Linked DNA regions of Homo sapiens: region 2 is linked to region 1. Evidence: fine-mapped expression QTL. A gene starts in region 1. The other region holds a variant in brackets. All regions are shown on one strand. Distances are from middle to middle.

The links. PIP is the estimated chance that this variant, and not a neighbour inherited with it, causes the effect.
Region 2: its variant is fine-mapped to the expression of HMGN4 in whole blood (INTERVAL, PIP above 0.99).

The regions. Positions count from the first base shown.
Region 1 is chr6:26,532,619-26,544,136 of GRCh38, forward strand. HMGN4 (high mobility group nucleosomal binding domain 4) reads left to right here and starts at 5,748. Exons shown (of 2, transcript NM_006353.3): 1 at 5,748-5,883. TRR-ACG1-2 (tRNA-Arg (anticodon ACG) 1-2) reads left to right here and starts at 4,880; the gene lies at 4,880-4,952. TRV-CAC1-6 (tRNA-Val (anticodon CAC) 1-6) reads left to right here and starts at 5,436; the gene lies at 5,436-5,508. It overlaps TRT-AGT2-1 (tRNA-Thr (anticodon AGT) 2-1), which reads right to left and starts at 372; the gene lies at 299-372. RefSeq lists a cis regulatory region at 86-839, silencers at 255-344, 4,732-5,025, 5,419-5,468 and enhancers at 3,445-3,944, 4,034-4,698, 5,959-6,368.
Region 2 is chr6:26,370,436-26,381,953 of GRCh38, forward strand. BTN3A2 (butyrophilin subfamily 3 member A2) reads left to right here. Exons shown (of 11, transcript NM_007047.5): 5 at 1-168; 6 at 2,462-2,662; 7 at 2,841-2,861; 8 at 2,952-2,978; 9 at 3,892-3,938; 10 at 4,336-4,363; 11 at 5,362-7,877. The coding sequence ends at 3,932. Among named protein-coding and RNA genes, the nearest start is that of BTN2A2, 6.9 kb to the right of the region's middle. The variant G/GA (reference allele first, on the strand shown) is at 7,769.

The DNA.
Region 1 (11,518 bases):
ACTAGAGATTATGATGTTGCTTGTAGTTTAAATTTGGTGTTTGCCTTCTGCTTTCCCTGGTTCCTCTCGTACATGTTGTAAGATATAACATGTGGAAGAAAAGTGTAAGAAAAGCAAGAAATTCAGAATTTCATTATTCTGAAAGAAAGCCAAATTTATCTTTGCTTCTTTTTCGTAAACAAGGAGGTTTCACACCGGACGCATATAAAACACTTTGATGGAGCCCCATAGGGGAAAATAACCTTTCACGCATACTTCAACTGTTCCGTGGGTACTTTGAATGCAGGAAAACTACAACAGGCCCCGCTGGGATTCGAACCCAGGATCTCCTGTTTACTAGACAGGCGCTTTAACCAGCTAAGCCACGGAGCCACCATGCCTGCGGTGGTACAAATGAGCATAGAAAAGAGATGATCTTTGCCTTTGTTCTGTGCATTGATACACTTTCTTGTTACTGAGGTTTGAAAGTAGCTACACGCTTCTTCAGACACTGAAGATTAACCTTGGCTTCGCCCCAAAAGACCTAAGAAACCGCTCAGCTGCAGGATAACGAGGTTTTTCGCGTGGGGGAGGTGGGGGGTGAGGGAAAGGCTGGCGATAGCCTGACCCCCGCCCCGGGGCGAACAGGAGAGTCCTCCGAGAAACTGCCTCAAATAGCAAGCAGCTCATCCTAACGTGGATAAAGTATGACCTCGGGCTTCAGGGAGAAGAGGGTAGGAGAGCGGGTAGCCAGCCACATTTACAGAACACTCCTCCGAGTCGTGTAATGCATTTACACCAGAACACTTACGGCACCAAGAACTGATCTAGCAGGAAGGAAGCTATTTGTTTCTTATTTCATGGCTTTTAAATTAAACTGGAATTAGATTAAAATTCCAGTCATTCCTTACCCCATTTCTTTCCGTTAAAACTGGGCTCCACCTACCTGCTTCTTGCTTATTAAAGATTAACTAATGGGGTTCCAGAGTTGCTTCTTAAAAATGCAAGATTTAAGAATTAACAACTTAATCTTGGAAAGAGATAAAGAAGTCCCCTTCCCGGTATAGCTACACAGAAAGAAAAGCTTTCTTGTCCTAATACTTGTCCAAAGGATCTGATTTGATGTGTCAAATCAGCATTATATATATGTGTGTGTGTGTGTGTGTGTGTATGTGTATATATATATTATATATATATAGAGAGAGAGAGAGAGAGAAAATTTCTATATTGTCATGGGGGCTTATGTGTTTCCAACTTATTCTGTTCTCTATTAAAAATAAATCTGATCTTGGGAGTATAATTTGAATAAAGGGGTTTAATGAAATTCTGAAGAGTATACAAATTGTTGGCACAGCTGTGAAAGTAACTTCCCAAATGAAACCTGTAATTATGTTTGGCTGTTTTACTTGAAATCTGTTGTCCTGGTGGTTATGCTGAAACAGACATTTCAGTATTCCTTAGCTGTATCAATATTTGAAGGATTTCTCTGTCACAGTCTAAGGCAGACATTGGCATGTACCTTTGCCTATGTATGCGATGGGGGGAACAGTAAAAGGTCACGCCGACTAGAGTTTTCATTTTTATAAAAAGATGCAAGTCGGCCGGGCGCAGTGGCTCACGCCTGTAATCCCAGCACTTTGGGAGGCCGAGGCGGGCGGATCACGAGGTCAGGAGATCGAGACCATCCTGGCTAACACGGTGAAACCCCATCTCTACTAAAAATACAAAAAAATTAGCCAGGTGTGGTGGTGGGCGCCTGTAGTCCCAGCTACTCGGGAGGCTGAGCCAGGCGAATGGCGTGAACCTGGGAGGCAGAGCTTGCAGTGAGCTGAGGTCGCGCCACTGCACTCCACCCCGGGCGACAGAGCGAGACTCCGTCTCAAAAAAAAAAAAAAAAAAAAGATGCCAGTCTATGAATTCAGCACTCACTTTGATTGAGACTCATGAAATAAGCACTTATTACTTTATTATTATAAGATTAGCCATCATATTATTAGTGTGCTTGGAGCCAATATAATCATCATAAATAGCACAGTCACACCTAATATGGCTTTAACCCAACTGTGGCAGGCCCCAGACAGCAGAGCCAATAGTATTTTATTTTGGTTTTTCCTTTGGCAGCTGACGAAGTTTGCACAGAATTTCTAGAATGTCAAAGGAATTGTTTAGCCAGAGATGAGCCTTGGAAGCAAATTGAGACTTTGAGCAATCATTTACAGAACTCTTGGTGTGAACCATATCTTCTATTCAGTTCCGACTGTGATTAGGAACCATGGAACCCTCACATTGGCTCCGCTCCACACGTCTGAAATTGGAGAGGATGCAGGTGGCTGTGTCACAGACTGCCGACAGTCATGTAAAACAATGTGAGAGTGGCAGATGGTGTAGTTTTCCATGTGCCTGGGAGTGAAACTAAAAAAAACTGCACTGAAACACAGAGAAGAGTCCACCACTGTCATAGTTGTATGTGTCAACTTAGGCTACCCAGTTATTCAATTAAACACTAACCTACATGTTTCTGTGAAGTTATCTTGTAAATGTGGTTAACAATCAGTTAACCTTAAAAAAAGATTCTCCCTTATGTAGATGGGCCTTATCCAATCAGTTAAAAGGCTTTGAGAGCAAAACAAAGGCCTCCCTAAGGAAGAAGAAATTCTGTTTCAAGACTTCAGCATCAGCTTCTGCCTGAGAGTTTCCAGCCTGCCCTACAACCCTACAGGTTTCAGACTTGCCAGTCCTCACCCTAGATATATATAGATATATATCTAGATTTATATATCTGGACTCTTTCTCCGATATATGCTGAAGAAAAGACTGGAAGTTGAAACTGGAACTGTCAGAAAAGATGTAGAAAGATTTCCAAGAGCAAAGCAAAAGCATTTCTTTTTTTTTTTTTTTGAGACAGAGTTTTGCTCTTATTGCCTGGGCTGGAGTGCAATGGGCGCGATCTCGGCTCACTGCAACCTCCGCCTCCCGGGTTCAAGTAATTCTCCTGCCTCAGCTTCCCGAGTAGCTGGGACCCACGTCCGGCTAATTTTTTGTATTTTTAGTAGAGACGGGGTTTTACCATGTTGGGCAGGCTGGTCTCGATTTCCTTACCTCGTGATCCGCCCACCTCGGCCTCCCAAAGCGCTGGGATTACAGGCGTGAGCCACCACGCCCAGCTGAAAGCATTTATTGTAGTGAATATGGCTAAGAAATTTGAGGCACCCAAGGGAGGTCTTCAAAGCCTGCAAAACACAGATAAATTTTTATAGACAAACACTAAGGAGACTGAATGTGGACAGAGCCTACAGCCAGCTGGGTTAAAGCTCATTTTTAAGGTGCTAGGTGGGACCTGTGACTTCCAGGGATGCTCTAGCCTGACCAGCATGGAGAAACCCCGTCTCTACTAAAAATACAAAATTAGCCGGGCGTGGTGGAGCATGCCTGTAATCCCAGCTACTTGAGAGGCTGAGGCAGGAGAATCGCTTGAACCCGGGAGGCAGAGGTTGCGGTGAGCCGAGATCGCGCCATTGCACTCCAGCCTGGGCAATAAGAGCAAAATTCTGTCTCCAAAAAAAAAAAAAAAAAAGTTTTGGTAACCTATTTTAACATAATTAGTTTTCTTTTGAAATCTTACATATTTATCTTTTCTTTCGTGTATTTAAAAGTATTATTCTGAGATAGAGTCCAGAATCACCAAGCTGCCCTTGGGGTCCATAGTACAAAACCTAACGAGAAGATCCCTATGCTATTGCCTAGGGAGTAATCCATAACCTAGGTCTACCTTAATATTTATGCAGAAAGAGCAGAATATTTTTTGTAACGGCTGTTGAAACCTTATGAACTGAAAACAAATATTTTCTAATCTCAAAGTGTATATTCTCAATATCAGGCAGTTTTACTTCTGTTTAGTAGACCTCATCTTATTTAAAATGCTCACCAGGCATGGGGATGATTTATTCTCAGAAATATGGACAAACTAAAACACACACATATGAGACGTTTGTTTGCTTTCAAAGTGAAAAAGTGAACATTCATATGAGTGTCCGGGTTGATGATGCTCCTTATAAAGCTGTCAAATTCTGAGATCAAGGCCCTGCAGTAGAAGCAGCATGCAGTGAGGAGGCCTAGCACAGTTTCGCTTAGTAAAATATTTGAAGAAAAAAAAAAAAAGACCCACAGAGAGACAAATGAAAACTCAGACCACGTCACCGTACAACGGCTTCCAGTTTCCTACAGAATACCAGCCAGAGTCCTTACAAGAGCCTGTAAAGCTGGCCAGAGTCCTTACAAGGGCCTATAAAGCTGGAGGTGGTCTCCCAGGATCTCCTATTCCTCTCCACTGAGCACCGGCCTCCTCAACATAACTCCCAAGCCTGCTTCCACCTCCAGGCCTTTTCCCTAGCGATTTTTCCCTGTTCCAGATCACTCATTTCCCCGATATCAGCATTTATCCCTCATTCATCACTTTCACTGCTGGCCTTTCCTATCCTCTTTCCCTGTTTTATTATTATTTTTCTCCAATCGCTTATCACTATTATTTTGTTTATTTAATGCTTTATTATCCGCTTCCGCCACTGCCATGTAATCTTGAGGGCAAGGGTCTCTCATGTTTTCTTCACCGTTATCTGCAGTGCCTTGAACACTAATACTGGTTGAATGAACGAACGCATTAATGGAGCGGTGATATTGGGGCAGAGAGGATGCAGGGCTTGCTTTTCACCGCCATTTTTCAGCCGGCAGAGACAGACCGAGAAAGGAATGAAGGCCACGGGGCGTGTGCAGAAGTAGCTACCAGAGAGTCCATGCGCTGCGAGCCTGGACCAGCGGGCAAACGCGGCTTACAGGCGTTCACCCAGATATTACGGGTACAACCTAGTTTCTTATGAAATACCTCGCCCCTAAGGTACGCGCAGGGCCAGTGGCGCAATGGATAACGCGTCTGACTACGGATCAGAAGATTCCAGGTTCGACTCCTGGCTGGCTCGGTGTAAGCAGGGTCGTTTTACAACTTTCTGACTCCGCAGGAGTAAGGAAATTCCTGCAAGATAAATTTGCCTGGAAGACTCAGAAGCAAGAGGGGCAGCTCCCGACAACATATGGGGTTATCATTTCTTTGCGGAGCATTCTGCCACTGACCACGTGGTAACGCCAACTACGCCAGAGAAACGCTCGCCCTACCCAAGTTGTGCCCAGCCTTGCCTGGCCATTTTGGCCGAAGAACGAAGGACCGTTCAGAGATTAAATTAAAGTCTCTATTGTGTTCTTCCCTATTCAGTCATTTGTAGAATAAATTCTATGGCTTCAGTTTGAACACTGGAGGGGCTGGGTCTGAGCTTTTCATTGGTTTTTCTGGTTTGAGAGGTCGGTACAGAGACGCACGCGCACATCAGCAAAACACGCACTTGGAACGAAGAAACACGGAACTAGGCAGGAAGAACTATTTACTCTGAAAAATAAGCCCTTAGTGGGTTTCCGTAGTGTAGTGGTTATCACGTTCGCCTCACACGCGAAAGGTCCCCGGTTCGAAACCGGGCGGAAACACGTTTTTTTTTCCTCATCTTACTACGAAATTCTTCCAGTGTGTATCTTTTAAAGACTTTTTCAGGCTGTCATAAATTTCCTGTCTTCTTGTCTTGCTAGATCGGGGCAGCAGTGCTTAGGGCGGGCCTCAGAGGCTCACACACGTATCGCCAGGGGGAGAACCAGCTCTCTCCGGCTTGGACTCGGGGCGGCTCCCCGCCTGCAGCCCCGGAAGCGCATCCTCACCTTCCCTCGCCTTCCTGTTCCTGGCGGAGCCGGGCTCCGCTCGTCTTCTCTGTCTTAGGGCTGGTGCTGGCCCTGCCCACGCCTAGGGCTCCGGCGCGTCACGGGCCTCAGCTGGGATTCCCGCGCCCCTCGGACGGCCACGAGACTCGGGTAAGTGCCTCACAGACTTTGTGCGCTACCCCGGAAAATGAGGGGCGTGGTGGGGGGGGTCCCGCCGCCCTCCGTATACTTAGGACCCTCCTGCCAGCTGGCCCCGGTCATGATTAGGGGCCTTGGGCCCCGTCAGCCCCGCCTGTCTTCCCGTCTCCAGAGTAATCGCAGCATCTCTCCTGAGCTCCGAGTGTGAATCCCTGGGAAAAGCTGAATCCAGAGGTGGGGTCACAGAGAGCCGCAGGCCCGACCGGGATGAGAAGTCCTAATCGGCGTTCTAGGGGCGTTCTAAAAGAAGGAAGGAAGGGGATTTGAAAGGATTGCTCCCGCAGGGCTGTGGCCTTAAAGAGGTGGTGACTGGCAGGTTGGACTGACCTGCCGTGGGCTCTCCCTTCCTCCCCAATTTACCTTCGAGAAACCCTCGTTGAGGAGACACCCAAGGGCTGAGTCCTCCTCCACTTTGACCTTTTGCTATTCCATCACAAAGAAAAAATGGATCCCAAAGTTAAGAAATGGACCAGCACTTGTTTAGAATCAGGACTGGTGCCTTGGTGTTTGGCCTCTTACCTCTGCCACATGGCTTGCTTACAAGTTAATCGGATTAATCAAACGCTTTTATGAGAAAGTTTTGTTGTGTCACCTGGCAGCCTCGGGTGTTCCCTAAGAGGGATTTCTTTCTTAGATGTATTACTACTTTTTCTAGGGATTAGCCAAGCCTAGCCTCTCAGATCATATTGCTCCAGGTTCCCTCAAATGACTAATAAGAATGTGATGTGTTTGTTTTTGTTTGTTTGTTTTTGAGACGGAGTCTCACTCTGTTGTCCAGGCTGGGGTGCAATGGTGCGATCTCGCTCACTGCAACCTCCACCTCGATTCTTGTGCCTCAGGCTCCCGAGCAGCTGGGACTACAGGTGTGTAACACTACACCCGGATAATTTTTGTATTTTTAGTTGGAGACGGAGTTTCACCATATTGGCCAGGCTGGTCTCAAACTCCTGACCTCAAGTGATCCGCCCGCCTCGGCCTCCCAAAGTGCTGAGATTACAGGCATGAGCCACCGCGCCCAACCGAATGTGATATTTTTATGACCATGAGAAAAGAAGGGCTGCATTCTTTGGTGGGTCCGCAAAATTAAAAAAAAAAAAAAAAAAAGAAAAGAAAAGAAAGAAAAGGACAATGTTAATGAGCTGTTTTCTTTTTATCATTTTCTTAAACAGGCTGCTTGGGTAGACGTTGACTTGAAAGGTCCATTCTTTTGTCATCTTGCTGGTTCCCTTAACAAGACAACACCTTGGCTAGCAAGATAATATCTTGGTTAGCAAGACAATAAACTTGGGCATGTGCTCAACAGCAACCTGTCTAATACATTTTCATTTAAAATCCCCTCTGTACTACTCAGAAATATAAGCAAGTTATTATGGTGCCCAGAAAGGGGGCAAAGGTTCCAGGGTCCTAGGAGATGACAAGGATTTATCCTCTTCATCTTTCTCCGATCCCAGTTAGCAGGAATACTTTAGCCTGGAAGGTGAGTGTGCCCCTAACCAACCTTTACAGATGGGTGACTGTTTGGGAGCTTATGGCTCACTCCTTCTCTTTAAAGCAGATGCATTCTGGCAAGCTGCAGCAGCAAACCTACCCTTTTAGACACCCTGCGTTTTCTCATCTTTCCTTTCTACCCCTGCATCTCCCAGTCTCTCTCACTTAACCTCCGTGGAAACTCATGCTGCGTCTCTAATACTTTGGAAGATGAAGAACAAACGCCCTGGAGAGTGACTGACACCATGTGACCTCTTGCTTCTGTAGCACACTGCATCTTGCCTGTGAATCTTTTTTTTTTTTTCTTTTTTTTTTGAGACCGGGTCTTGCTCTGTCACCCAGGCTGGAGTGCAGTGGCACAATCTTGGCTCACTGCAACCTCCGCCTCCCAGGCTCAAGTGATTCTCCTGCCTCAGCTTCCCAAGTAGTTGGGACTATAGGCATATGCCACCACACCCAGCTAATTTTTGTATTTTTAGTAGAAATGGGTTTCACCATGTTGGCCAGGCTGGTCTTGAACTCCTGACCTCAAGTGATCCACCTGCCTCCACCTCCCAAAGTGCTGGGATTACAGGCGTGAGCCACCACGCCCAGCATTTGCCTGTGCATTTTTTATTGTATTTTAATTATATCCTTTATTCTCTCCTTCCTAAGCTTGGTGTTCTTAACTTTCTTCCAGATCTTCCCTCCAACCCCCAAACACGATCTCTCCTTAAGTAAGAGGCAGGGAGGGAGAGGGGAACCTTCTGATTTCGGGGTGGGATTGAGGCTAAAACCCAAGTTAGAACTACCTCCCAGAAACCCAGTTCCGTATCCATCGAGTGATCAAAAAGATGCTGCTAAAATGTGCCTTGTGTTTGCTAGGGATGAGGTGAAAATGAGTATTGAATGAGGTGGCATTTTGGTCCATGGATTTGCTTGCTATGAAAGAGAAAAAACATGGAAAAATATATTTTGAGAGCTGGGTGAGACCCCCAAATTAATCTAATCCAAGATGTTTCCCTAGTCATTACATTCCTTTTTTTTTGAAACAGAATCTCACTCTATTGCCCAGGCTGGAGTGCAGTGGCGCAATCTCGGCTCACTGCAACCTCTGCCTCCCGGGTTCAAGCAATTCTCCTGCCTCAGCATCCTTAGTAGCTGGGATTACAGGCACGCACCACCACCCATGGCTAATTTTGTATTTTTAGTAGAGATAGGGTTTCACCATGTTGGCCAGGCTGGTCTCGAACTTCTGACCACCTTGGCCTCCCAAAGTTCTGGGATTACAGGCGTGAGCCACCACGCCCTGCCTGAGTCACTAAATTCTTACACTGTTCCCTCCTATGTTAGTCCGCTAGGGCTGCCGAAACAAGGTACCACAGGCTGAGTGACTTAAACAACAAAAATTAATTTTCTTTGACTTCTGGAGGATAGAAGTCCAAGATCAAGATGTCGGCAGGTTTGGTTTCTTCTGAGGCCTCTCCTTGGCTTGCAGATGGCCACCTCCCACTACATCCTTAGATGTGTTCCTCTATGTTGTCTGTATCCTAATCTCCTCTTCCTATAAGTACACCAGTAATATTGAATTAGGGCCCACCCATAATACCCTATTTTGCTTTTTATTTCACTATTAGTTTTTTTTTTAAAGCTATTTTTGCCAGTTAATTTAAACATCATGATCTTCTTCTAATGATAAAAATGCAAGTCTTCATGCTAACAAAAGGATTGGAAGAAGGATGAAGCAGATGTTTCTTCTCCCCTACAGCAATCTGGTTAAATGAGGAGTTAAATTGAGAGCTTTCATGAGAATTTCAGTCCAGTTCTGTGCAATGAAGACGAGTGATTCAAAACTTTCACTAACTTGCTCTGTTGTTTGTAATATAATGTTATTGGAAGAGTTATTTTAACAAAGGGGAACTGTTATATTTCTAAAACTTTTAAAATTGTTGCCATGTCTTGGGAAAATAACTTCAGTATCTGTCTTGATAATTTCTTGCCCTGATGATACCATTGAAAGTCATTTCTCTATGTTTCCAAAAGTTGTACAATTACTAGTAAGATTTATCTGCCAGTTAATAATTTTTCTTTTCTTCCACATGCATGAAGGAGTATTTGTAATGACTTTTATATTTTATCATTAACATTATTTTTTTGAACTCTTAAAATGCGTATTTTTTTTTTACATTAATAGACTTCCTTTTTTCAGAGCAATTTTTGGTTTACAGAAAATTGAGCAGAAGATACAGAGTTCCCACATACTTCCTTTCCCCCACCTCAGTTTCTCCTAAGTTATTAACAACTTACACTGGTGTGGTACATTTGTTACAAATGATGAACTAATATTGATAGCTTATTATTAACTAAAATATATAGTTTACATCAGGGTTCACTCACTGTATGAAGTTCTGTGGGTTTTGTCAAGTGCATAACATCTACCATTTTATAATATATGCCATTACAGTAGCATACAAAAGAGTTTCATTTACCTAAAAATCTCTTCTGCGCCACCTCAAATAATTTCTTCTGAGTTAAAACCACTGTGTGGTGAGAGCTCCTTCCTTTTCCAACCTCCTTGTCCTTTATGGAAATGGTAAGAGCTTTTACCCATCTCTCTGGTCCCTTTTCATTATGTGTGTATCTGTCTCCCACATTTGTAAGGTCTCTAGAGAGTCAGTGACCTGGTCTCCTAATCAGCTTCCTAAAGGTGAGTTTCAAGAATTAAATCCGTATTTATATACTCAGATACAGCATCCAGGCAGTGGCCTATTTTTCCTGATTTTATTTTGTCACCTGCTGTATTTTGGCCTTTGACATGTGGAGATCATGGCCCCCCTACTTCGGATGGACTTCAATGGATCTAACTCGAAGAAGACTGAACCCAGGAAAAGAGACTGTGTGAGCATTCTCACACCAGGAAATGGGCTGAGAAACAATTTTGGAGTGAGATGGAAGGAGAATGGTATGGAGTATCTATTCTTAGGGAAATGTGTGCTAGGCCAAAATCTCACTTTTTGGTTAAACACTCTCATTCTCTGATAACATAAAGGCCTCTAAAAATATATGCAGAATATTTGGGGTAACCTTATTATTCATTGCCCAAGTTAGGTCACCTTTCAAAGTAAAAGGGAACATTATGAATAATTATACTAGGGCAACAGGTATAAATCAAGTCACCCTACCATTAGACCAAGTGATTTTCACTGGTTCCTTCATTGTAAGAGTAACTCCTTTTGTTTCCTAAAAATTGTTAAAATGATTCCTTAATGTTGCATTTGAAATAAAGGGAAAAAGACAAAAATTAGCAATAAATTCATGTAATGTCTAGGCAAGGATTTCTTCAGAAGAGAGCAGGTCAGGTGTAGTTAGATCAGTAGAACTGTATGTCTCAGTGGCACCATTACCTTTTTTTTTTTTTTTTTTGAAGCAGAGTCTCACTCTGTCCCCCAGGCTGGAGTGCAGTGGCACAATCTCGGCTCACTGCAACCTCCGCCTCCCAGGTTCAAGCAATTCTCAGGTGGATCACCTGATGTCAGGAGTTCGAGACTAGCCTGGCCAACACGGTGAAACCCTGTCTCTAGTAAAAATACAAAAATTGGCTGGGTATGGTGGCGTGCGCCTGTAATCCCAGCTACCCAGGAGGCTGAGGCAGGAGAATTGCTTGAACCCGGGAGGCAGAGGTTGCAGTGAGCCGAGATCGCACCACTGCACTCCAGCCTGGGTGACAGAACGAGACTCTGAGACTCTATCTCAAAAAAAAAAAAAAAAAAAAAAAAAAACTGGAGCAATTTGGAGACAAGATTAAAAAAATAATAATAACATTGTAGAATGGTGGCCACTCACAAGGTTACAGAATTTCCCAGTAAATGTTTTCAAGGGTGGGGCAGAAGGTATGATAGACAAAAGCTTTAAAAAAGTCACACAGTGCCCATGAATGCCAGCCCTAGGCCTAAGTCCTAATTACTCAAACTCAAACTATTTTCCATTTCCTACCTGTGTGGCTCTCAATCTGTGCTCTGGGCTACCCACATTTTTTAGTACTTTTATTAATTCTTGAGCAGACACATACAATTTTTCTGTGTAAGACATAGGTAATACTCCAGCCATGTGCTTCCCCTAC
Region 2 (11,518 bases), 160 kb before region 1:
AGGGAGAGAACATCCCAGCTGTGGAAGCACCTGTGGTTGCAGATGGAGTGGGCCTATATGAAGTAGCAGCATCTGTGATCATGAGAGGCGGCTCCGGGGAGGGTGTATCCTGCATCATCAGAAATTCCCTCCTCGGCCTGGAAAAGACAGCCAGCATTTCCATCGCAGGTCAGTACCTGCTTGGCCTCAGGTTTTCTGAGCTGAGCTGTGGCAGTTGAATGAAGGGGGATGTGTTAATATCTGTGGTCGACCTGGGTCTCTGCACTGAATATAAGGCCCAAAGCACAGACCTGGAGGCTCCTCTTTGTGCCAGGGGAGCTTCTTTCCTCCATAAAGGTGTTCGTAACACAAACATTTTCTGAACATTTCCTATCTGCCAGAAAGTATGACAGGCAATGGGAATTGGAGGAAAAACATTAAGATAAGCTCCTTATATAATGTGAAATGACAAAATGGTTATATATATATATTTACAAACTCATATCATAGAGAAAGAGCTGATCTCCTTGAATCAGAAGGAGATTCTAAAAACCTAGTAAAAAGTTTTGGCCAGGCATGGTGGCTCACGCCTGTAATCCCAGCACTTTGGGAGGCCGAGGCAGGCAGATCATTGAGGCCAGGAGTTTGAGACCTGCCTGGCCATGGTGAAACTCCATCTCTTCTAAAAATTCAAAAAATTAGCCAGGTGTGGTGGAGTGCACCTCTAATCCCAGCTACTCAGGAGGCTGAGGCACGAGAATCACTTGAACCCAGGAGGCAGACGTTGCAGTGAGTGAGAGCAGACCACTGCACTCCAGCCAGGATTACAGAGCGAGACTCTGTCTCAAAAAATAAATAAAATAAAATAAAATAGAAACCAAGTAAAAAAAATGTTAACAAAGCCCATGAATTATCAATTCACAGAAAAGGAAATAACTCACAAAAGGGTGCTCATTCTCACTCACTGGGTAAACATATGAAATAATTTTTCACTTATGATATTTGCAAAAATCAAAACTGCTTTGGCTTATAATACATGATTCTCATAGGAATGTAGGAAGGCAGTGACTCTCAGTCATTTGCTCATGTAACTTCCTGTATTTTTGATGTGCATTAGGTCAACCTCTGTTGGGGGCTCTATAGCAATATCTATCCAAACTACACACTTATCGATCCAAACTTCCACTTCTAGGAATTTATCTGATAGATAAGCTTGCATTTGTATGAGATGATCCATGTGAAAGGTTTCTGTTTTTCGTTGTGTGTGTGTCTTTTTTTTTTTTAGACAAAGTCTCACTCTATTGCCCAGGCTTGAGTGCAGTGGTGCAATCTCAGCTCGCTGCAGCCTCTGCCTCCCAGGTTCAAGTGATCCTCCTGCCTCAATCTCCCAAGTAGCTGAGATTACAAGCATGTGCCACCACACCCAGCTAATTTTTGTATTTTTAGTAGAGACAAGGTTTTACCATGTTGGCCAGGCTGGTCTCAAACTCCTGACCTCAAGTGATCCACCCGCCTCAGCCTCCTAAAGTGCTGGGATTACAGGCGTGAGCCACTGCAACCGGCCTGTAAAAGGTTTCTTATAGCACTGATTACTATTGCACAAGGTTAGAAACTGTGCAGATGTTCACTGCCAGGGAACTTCCATACAAGGGAATACTGCACAGTTTGTAAAAGGAAAAAGAAGCAATTCTCTCTATACTAATATGGAAAGATCTCCAAGATACACTTTACACAGAAAAAGCAAGATGCAGAGGGACGTGTATAGAATGCTATTTTTAGTTTAAACAAGAGGAAAAATAAGAATATATTTTAATTTACTTTTTTTTAGTTCTCAATTGGGTTAGTTTACATTTTTAAACTTCAACAAGCAATTTTGTAACACTTACTGTACATCAGGCACTTTATAAGTATTAATTCAATTCTTCTAACCTCAGGAAATAGGTATTATCATTACCCTCATTTTACATTAGTAGATTAGGCCACTACAAACAGAGAGGTTATGTAAGTAGTCCAACATCACACTGCTAGTCACATGGGGGAGCCAGCATTGAAACCCATACCCTCTGACTCCACAGGTTATGTTCCTAAGCATCATATTAAGTGGACTAAGAAGTTAATACATGGAGGGAGGGAGGACAGGGTGAATGAGAGAGTTGCGTGACTTTATGTGTATGTAGTTTTGAACGATGTAAATGTGTTACCTATTGAAAAAATATTTAGAAAAAATGTGTATGACTTTGCTCAAGTTACTTTCCATGTGAGAGGCAGACATCTCAAGATAAGTAATAGTAGTAGCTTGTAGTGAGGGTTTACCAAAGTCTTATCTATAGTCCTCTGAGACTTTAGGGAGAGAATCCTTATTTAACCTCATGAGATAGATTCCCCACCCCCGACCTGAGCTGAGCAGCTAAAGCTTGGGGTGCTGCAGGCTGGGGAGGCTGAGCGCACCAGCGCCCATGACCTACAGCTCTCCCCTTCGCAGACCCCTTCTTCAGGAGCGCCCAGCCCTGGATCGCAGCCCTGGCAGGGACCCTGCCTATCTTGCTGCTGCTTCTCGCCGGAGCCAGTTACTTCTTGTGGAGACAACAGAAGGAAATAACTGCTCTGTCCAGTGAGATAGAAAGTGAGCAAGAGATGAAAGAAATGGGATATGCTGCAACAGAGCGGGAAATAAGCCTAAGAGGTATCCAACGCAAGCAGAGAATCTAAGCTCTTGGCTTGCATGCCCCAGCCTGAAAACCTCACCTCTCTCCCCTACCCTGGCACTGCATCATGTTTAAGGTTTATTTCCCGAAACACCAACCTCACCCATAACAGTTCATCTTTTTTTTTTTTTTTTTTTTTTTTTGGTTATTTTCCAGAGAGCCTCCAGGAGGAACTCAGTAAGTTACCATTCCCCCAGAGATCCAGACATGTCTTCCTATCCTCGCTTTGAGCACCTTGATGACTCTTCCCTGTTCATTCCATTGCAGAGAGGAAAAAAATCCAGTACTTGACTCGTGAGTGGCTTTGACATTTTCTCTGAATTCAAATCTGTTACTCTCTCTCTGCTTCATTATTTTCCAGCCCATAAGTCATAGCCCAGGGTTGAAAAGTGGTCTTGGATCCCTTTACCCAGAAAAAGAAAACAAGTGTGGCTCTTTGGAGAAACCACCCAGTGCTTTTTCTCTCTAGAAAAAAAAAAAAAAAAAAAAGAGGTCTTCAATCTCTTTGTACTAGGGGCTACAGACCCTTAAGCTCTAAAAAGCACTGAGGAATATCCAGGGGTACACTTCAAAAGGAAGAGGGAAGAGAAGGATGAGGTGCATTTTCTATGGCAGGAAACTTACTTGTTGTTTCCCATAATCTAGAGGCTGTTGAAAGGAAAACAAGAATGGAAGATTTAAGAAATAAGAAAATCAGAAAAGAGAGAGGGAGGGAGAAAAGTGTGTCTAATAAAGAGGAGTAGCTACAGTGGCTCAGTTGGTACAGATAGATCATAACTGCTTTCAAAAACTAGTCCCTGAAATTGCTCATTAAATTTCCCAAATTCTTTTTAGAGCAAGGTACGAAATGATACAGATTGAGAAGGATGAATCTTGTACTCCTAGGCATACACATATAGACATGGTGACACCTATGCCCAGGTACACATTCAAAACAGATGAGCTGGACCCCATTGGGAAGGAACTCTCACAGTGCCTGCCCTGCCACTAGCGTTCAACCGATGTTCCCAGACTTGATATTAAGAAGAGGTGAAGAAAGAATTGTACCTGAAGATGGAGACCATGGGGAAGGGTGGGATGGTAAAAAAAAAAAAAAAAAAAAAAAAAAAAAAAAAAAAAAAGACTAGATGGATGCAAAAAGAAGGGGAAGGGGCCAACACAGAAAAGGCAGAGTTCTGGTGACACCTCTACCTTTCTTTCATTGTAGGTGGAGAGGAGTCTTCGTCCGATACCAATAAGTCAGCCTGATGCTCTGTAAGTTTGCTGGGTCACATGCCCTGAATATTTCAACTTTTTCTCCACTGTGACCCGTGGATGTTCTCAGCTGGATTAATTAGATCTAATCTAAAGACTCAATTTCTGTGTGGTGGGGGTTCACCTCCGCTTTTCTGGAGCCTCTGAGAAACTCCTGATCCTGCACACCCCCTTGTAAAGCCTGGCCATGCATCCTGCACCCCCCATGACACAGGGAGCCAAGCCTGACATTTTTGAGAAGGTGCCACCTCTGATCCATCAGAGCTGTAGAGGAGGGAAGCTGGACCCTGGAAGAGACTCTAAAGAAAAGGAGAGAAAACATGTAGTGAGAGGAGAATGGAGTGGGAAAAGTACAAAAATACTGACCTTTTTCTTATCTGTGTCTCCTTCCTTTCAGAATGGAAAAATGGCCCTCTTCAAGCCTGGTGAGTAAATCACTGCATGTTCCCTGGACCAACAACCTGAGGGACTATATTCCTTTTTCCTTTTTTCTTCTCCAACTCTTGTGATTTGGAGCAGAAAAGTTCCCTTGACTTCCTTCGTGGGTAGGAAGACGCATAAAGGGTGGAGGTGAAGGGAAGGAGACACACACTGAGTAATACTGCAGGGAGAGTGAGGATGGAAATGCCAAGGAGAGGAGGTGATGCCTGCCCAAAGAACTTTGTCCTTCCCAGGCTTCTCATGCCACCTACTGCCTGTATCTCCTCAAAGGATTTAATGCTTCCAAGCTTTGGCCTCCACATTTTTAGATGATGATTGCAATCTGTTTTTCATGGGGGTTGAGGTGAAGACTGAAGGAATAATGAACATGCTTGGCAGAAACCTAGCAAGAAATAGATGGTGAGCTCAAACTGGGTAGTTGGACAAGGTTTCCAGAAAGAAGGGTTAAGGGAAAGCAACAAGGAAAAGTGCAGTGCCCCCATGGTTCCCAACAGTGGGGAGCTGTCTCCACCCCTAGCCTGGGAGGGCTAAAAAGGGGAGGCAATTACTGGAACCCAGAGAAAGAGGTAGCTTAACGAGGGAGCTTCCTGAGAAGAGTCCTCGGGCCTTGTTAGAGCACCACCAGCTGCTGCTGGCAGGGAGGAAGCAGGAAATTAAACGGTGTGTATCTCCTTTCTTTCTCCTTCTAATCTTCTATCAGGGCCTCCCATTGGCCAAACACAGCAGCAAACCAGAGGACAAGGGAGCCCAGTGGCACTGTCCATAGAGGACAGATTCCTGGGGTCCAGAAGAGGGTGGAGAAAGCTGAAGGCTGGAGAGTGAATCTAGGGCATATAAGGCCCCACACAGAGCCCAGCACAGAGACGGCCTTGCAGCTATCAGGAAGATGAGGAGCTTCCTTCATGGCCTGCTGTGGGCTGAGTAAATAATATGATTGCCTTCTACAGCGCTAGAGATTCATATGTTTATCCCCATTTTTCAGGTGAGGAAATGCTTCAGATGAGGCTCCACCTTGTTAAATAAATTGGATGTATGGAAAAATAGACTGCAGAAAAGGGGAACTCATTTAGCTCACGAGTGGTCGAGTGAAGATTGAAAATTAACCTCTGAGGGCCAGCACAGCAGCTCATGCCTGTAATCCTAGCACTTTGGAAGGCTGAGGAGGGCGGATCACAAGGTCAGGAGATCAAGACCATCCTGGCTAACACGGTGAAACCCCGTCTCTACTAAAAATACAAAAAATAAAAAATTAGCCGGGCATGGTGACGGGCACCTGTAGTCCCAGCTACTCGGGAGGCTGAGGCAGGAGAATGGCATGAACCCGGAAGGCAGAGCTTGCAGTGAGCCGAGATCACGCCACTGCACTCCAGCCTGGGAGACAGAGCGAGACTCTGTCTCAAGAAAAAAAAAAAAAAAAAAAAAGAAAAGAAAATTAACCTCTGAGTATAAAGCATCAGTGGGCAGAATCAATGTGGGGAGGGAAACAACAAAAATGTAGAAAGAGGATCCTTGTTGCTTCTTGGGGCCGCATCAGGGTATTGGGTTAGGCAGATACTGACCTTACTTTCATTTCCCCTCTGGTCACTAGACCCCTGGGGCTTTCACCAATGACATTGATGAGAGAATCACATTCAGGGCAGGCTAGGGACACGGGGTTCTGGAAGGACCTCCTCAGCATGGCCCAAGCCTTGCATGCTGTGGCTCTTAAATCCAGGAAAAATGGCTGACCCCATGGACACCTCCTCAAACTCTCTGCAGCAGATGTAATTCTGTATCCAGACATGGCAAATGCCATCCTCCTTGTTTCTGAGGACCAGAGGAGTGTACAGCGTGCTGAGGAGCCCCATGACCTACCAGACAACCCTGAGAGATTTGAATGGCGTTACTGTGTGCTTGGCTGTGAAAGCTTCATGTCAGAGAGACACTACTGGGAGGTGGAAGTGGGGGACAGAAAAGAGTGGCATATTGGGGTATGTAGTAAGAACGTGGAGAGGAAAAAAGTTTGGGTCAAAATGACACCGGAGAACGGATACTGGACTATGGGCCTGACTGATGGGAATAAGTATCGGGCTCTCACTGAGCCCAGAACCAACCTGAAACTTCCTGAGCCTCCTAGGAAAGTGGGGGTCATCCTGGACTATGAGACTGGACATATCTCGTTCTACAATGCCACGGATGGATCTCATATCTACACATTTCTGCACGCCTCTTCCTCTGAGCCTCTGTATCCTGTATTCAGAATTTTGACCTTGGAGCCCACTGCCCTGACCGTTTGCCCAATACCAAAAGTAGAGAGTTCCCCCGATCCCGACCTAGTGCCTGATCATTCCCTGGAGATACCACTGACCCCAGGCTTAGCTAATGAAAGTGGGGAGCCTCAGGCTGAAGTAACATCTCTGCTTCTCCCTGCCCAGCCTGGAGCTAAGGGTCTCACCCTCCACAACAGCCAGTCAGAACCATAAAGCTACAGGCACACACTGAAGCACTTTACTGATATTCATTCAATTATTCCATAGGACAGTTGTTTGAGTTTGGTGCCACCTTATTGGCCCCTTTATACAGATAAGGAAACTGGGGTGTAGAAAAGTGTATTGACTTTACAAAGCAGACAGGAATAGTGAACAACAGAGCTGGGATCTGAACAACAATGACTAACATTAATGGAGAATTTAAAACGTTCTGAGTGCTGTGTTATGAGCTTTGGTGGGTGTCACTCCTTTAATCCTCACAACACCCTGTCAGGTAGTCTCATTTGGCAAGTATGGAAGCAGAGGCAGGGCAACATTAAGTAGCTTACATAACTCACACGGTAATTTGTGCAGTTGGGAGATGTTCAGCTTCAGTCCCTGGCCAATTGCCCGTTCTTTTCCAGCCTGATTTTTCCTGCATGGGAAGAGCCCACATGTAGCCCTGAGGTTCCCTTCCCAGGACAGCTCCAGGATCGAGATCACTGTGAGTGGTTGTGGAGTTAAGACCCCTATGGACTCCTTCCCAGCTGATTATCAGAGCCTTAGACCCAGCACTCCTTGGATTGGCTCTGCAGAGTGTCTTGGTTGAGAGAATAACGTTGCAGTTCCCACAGGGCATGTGACTTTGAAAGAGACTAGAGGCCACACTCAGTTAATAATGGGGCACAGATGTGTTCCCACCCAACAAATGTGATAAGTGATCGTGCAGCCAGAGCCAGCCTTCCTTCAGTCAAGGTTTCCAGGCAGAGCAAATACCCTAGAGATTCTCTGTAATATTGGTAATTTGGATGAAGGAAGCTAGAAGAATTACAGGGATGTTTTTAATCCCACTATGGACTCAGTCTCCTGGAAAAGGATCTGTCCACTCCTGGTCATTGGTGGATGTTAAACCCATATTCCTTTCAACTGCTGCCTGCTAGG[G/GA]AAAACTGCTCCTCATTATCATCACTATTATTGCTCACCACTGTATCCCCTCTACTGGGCAAGTGCTTGTCAAGTTCTAGTTGTTCAATAAATTTGTTAATAATGCTGACTCTTCAACTTGGTTTTTTCTAGACTGTGGTGTCTACTCAGCACAGTAGAGTAGTCTACATACCCACTGTACTCCCCACAGTTTCAGTTTGCCTCACTGCAGCATTTTCACAAAACCCTTATTGGATGCCTCTTCTATTGTTGCCATCTGAATTACCAGAAATTCATAGATTTAAAGCAACACAAATCTATTATCTCACTGTTCTGTAGGTGAGAAGTCCCACAGGGATCTCACCAGGCTATAATCAAGGTGTCTGCAGGCTGGATTCCTTTCTGGAGTCTCTAAGGAAGAATCTATTTCCTTGCTTATTCAGATCGTTGGCAGAATCAGTTCCCTTCATTTACAGGAATGAGGTCCCAGTTGTTTCCTGGTTTATAGCCAGGGACTGTACCCACTTCTAGAGGCTGCCACACTCTGACTCTTAGCTCCCTTCCTCCATCTTCAAAGCAGCAACAGTACATTGAGTCTCCTCTCCTAGTTCTTTTTCTCCATTGTATCATTCTGATTCTTTTACCTTCTCCTTTTTTTCCTTCCTTTTATTTATTTATTTATTTATTGTTGACAGGGATTCGCTCTGTCACCCAGGATGAAGTGCAGTGGCGTGATCTCGGCTCACTGCAAACTGTCCCCTGGGCTCAAGCAATCCACCCACTTCCGCTTCCCAAGTAGCTGAGACCACAGGCCCACATCACCATGCCCCGGTATTTTTTTTGTAGAGACAGGGTCTTGCCATGTTGCCCAGGCTGGTCTCAAACTCCTGAGCTCAAGAAATCTGTCCACCTTGGTCTCCCAAAGTGCTGGGATTATAGGCATGAGCCACGGCACTCAGTCTGCCTTTTACTTTTAAAGACTCCTGTGATTTGACTGAGTCCAACAGACAGTTTAGAATAATCTCTCTAATTTAAGGTCCATAATTTTAATTTTGTGTAACATCCATTTCGCCATGTTATACATTCTATTCATAAGTTTCTTAGTGGATATAACTCAAAGGGTGGGCGGGGGGGGGCACTACTCAGCTCACCACACTGATTTGGGAAGTGATCCCAGGAAACACAAGTGCAGAAATAAATTGAGAAATGAAAGAAAGCCAATTACATGAGAAATGAGATAAAGAGTTCATTCATGAGTCAGTTATCATGTGGAAAACTTGGCTTAATCCCTTTTACGACTCTCTAAGAAACCATATGAAATGTGTGATATAGCTCAGAATCTTCCTAAGGACTACAGGGCCTGCGACTTTATCTCCACTTCCCATCCTCCTTTGCTTGAATTGTTTGAAGATTGGCCTGGGAGTGTTAATTCTAATGTACTTTAAGATTGGGCTATGTAACTGCAGAAAAGCAACTATCATGGGTGTGATAAAGCTCACAGGCAAAGGAGAAGGGAGATACTCACTGGAGGTGGGAAGGTTGTCATCTTTGCAGAAAACTGTGCCTCAGCTATTGGCAAACTGTGATAGGCCAAGAGAATAAGGGATGGGGCATCAACAGCATCAGTTATAAGGGCTCACCTCTGAGAATATAGTGAATGCCTTTCAAGGTCTCTCTGCCCTCCCTGCACCACATTTATTTAGCATTAGTGACCTCTTGTCTTCCAATACATGCCCATATCACATGGCCCTGCAGCCTCACCACATGGACTGGGTCTAGGATGGACACTGACCCAGGCTAGGCCAGAGGACTAAGTGACATGTGGCTAGTTACTCCTGTAACAGATGTGCATGGGAGCTGTGGGAAGAAATGTTCCATTCATGCTGTGGACTAAAGGATGGTGGACTGCAGAGAAGACCAAAGCAGATGAGCAGAGAGAAGGCTCCAAATGGAGAGCTTAGGCAATTTTATCATGTTTGTTTCTTTTAGAAGCCCAATATCATTTCTTCTCTTTGAAAAAATTTGTTGTGTTGAGACAAGGTAAATGTACTAGTTAATATTGCGGCAGTTGTAAAATTTGGAAGCTTACATAAGCATTATAATATGCTCATTGATTCTGTGAGTCAGGAAACTAAAATTTGAACAGGACAAAGTAGAAATGGATTTTCTGTGTGCCAAGATGCCTGTGGATCCCCTCGGAGTACTCCATAGCTGGAGATGACACACCCATATTACTTTCAAAGATTGGAGTTTATTGCACAGCAACAGTGAATCATTGCTCACTCCGGGTCCCGGTTCTTCCAGGATTGGCAGGTACACCATGTCCATAAAGAATCTTTCTGAAGTGACCCTTCCTGTCTCTTTTTCCATCCCAGGACACAGTATGATTGGGTTAGATCATTACTATCTAACCTGGCACACCCCAGTAGAACCTGGTTTCTTGCTAAGCTACCCCATGGCCAAATGATCCTCTTCCTTCTCAGAACACACATGTTTCCCTCCTGCTCAGATGAACTTTGGCAGAGGTTGAGGCCTGGCTTAGCTGGATGCTTCTTGCACAAGCTGCTTCAAAGCCCTGGGTCTTATTTCTTCAAATAAAAATATAAAGTCAGGTCTCATCCTGGGTGGCCATGCTCTTAGACACTTGCATCCTTCTCTTCTGTCCTTTCCCAACAGCTGCCCAGTCCTGGTTGGAATATTCTAATACTGACATAATTACCCTCATTAGCCACTCAACCCAGGATCCAATTTTAATTATAATCCAGAAATATCAGGTGATGAGTGAGGCTTCTGTATGAGAATGGGACAGTTCAAGTGTCAATTCAATAGTAAAAACACTTCTTAGGCCTTTCTTTATCTTATTCTCATCAAAGAGCTTTCTCTGCAGAAGGGACCTACTGGTTCATCCTTCCTGGTCCTTGATCTTCTGATCTAGAGTGGCTTAATAGTGCTGCCACCTCTCTCTCGAACTCTGGTGCCGAATGATTCCAGGAACTGGGCCATCCTGTGGTGGGAATGACCTTACCCTGAGCATGTCACTCATGCATTGAACAACAGCTGAGAGCAGAGCTTAGAGTTGGGCCTTGTAAGGAGAGAAGAATCACATCCTGCAGAAGTCTGTCCTGAGGAACAGGTACTCCAGTCACAGCAAAGACACAGTTGATACCTGGATAACAATAATAGAAGACAGGACATGGGAACAGCAAAAGATATGGGTGTTAGAAGAGGCCGAGAGCACTTCAGGCAGGAGCATTCAGAGTTGTTCTTGGAGGAAGTAGGCACGAAGGCTGGGCAGGATTTCAAGGGGCAAAGATGGAGCAAGCAATTCAAGTGAAAGGCATGGCATGGGAAAGGGAGCGCTGGCCACAGGGAGTGCAACGTTGTGATGCAAGGCCACTGTGGAGCCATTGCTAGTGTATTAACTGCAAAGTTTTGAATTGAATCAGAAGGGAATTGGAGGCCTCTAGACTAAGCATTTATTTGTGTATATTTTATTATTTATTTATTTATTTTGAGGCAGGGTCTCACTTTGTCACCCAGGCTGGAGTGCAGTGGCATGATCTCAGCTCACCCTAACCTCCACCTCCCAGGTTCAAGCCATTCTCCTGCCTCAGCCTCCTGAGTAGCTGGGATTACAGGCATGTGCCACCACACCCAGCTAATTTTTTTTTTTTTTTTTTTTTTGGTAGAGACGGGGTTTCATCATGTTGGCCATGCTGGTCTTGAACTCCTGACTTCAAGTGATCTGCCTGCCTCCTCCTCCCAAAGTGT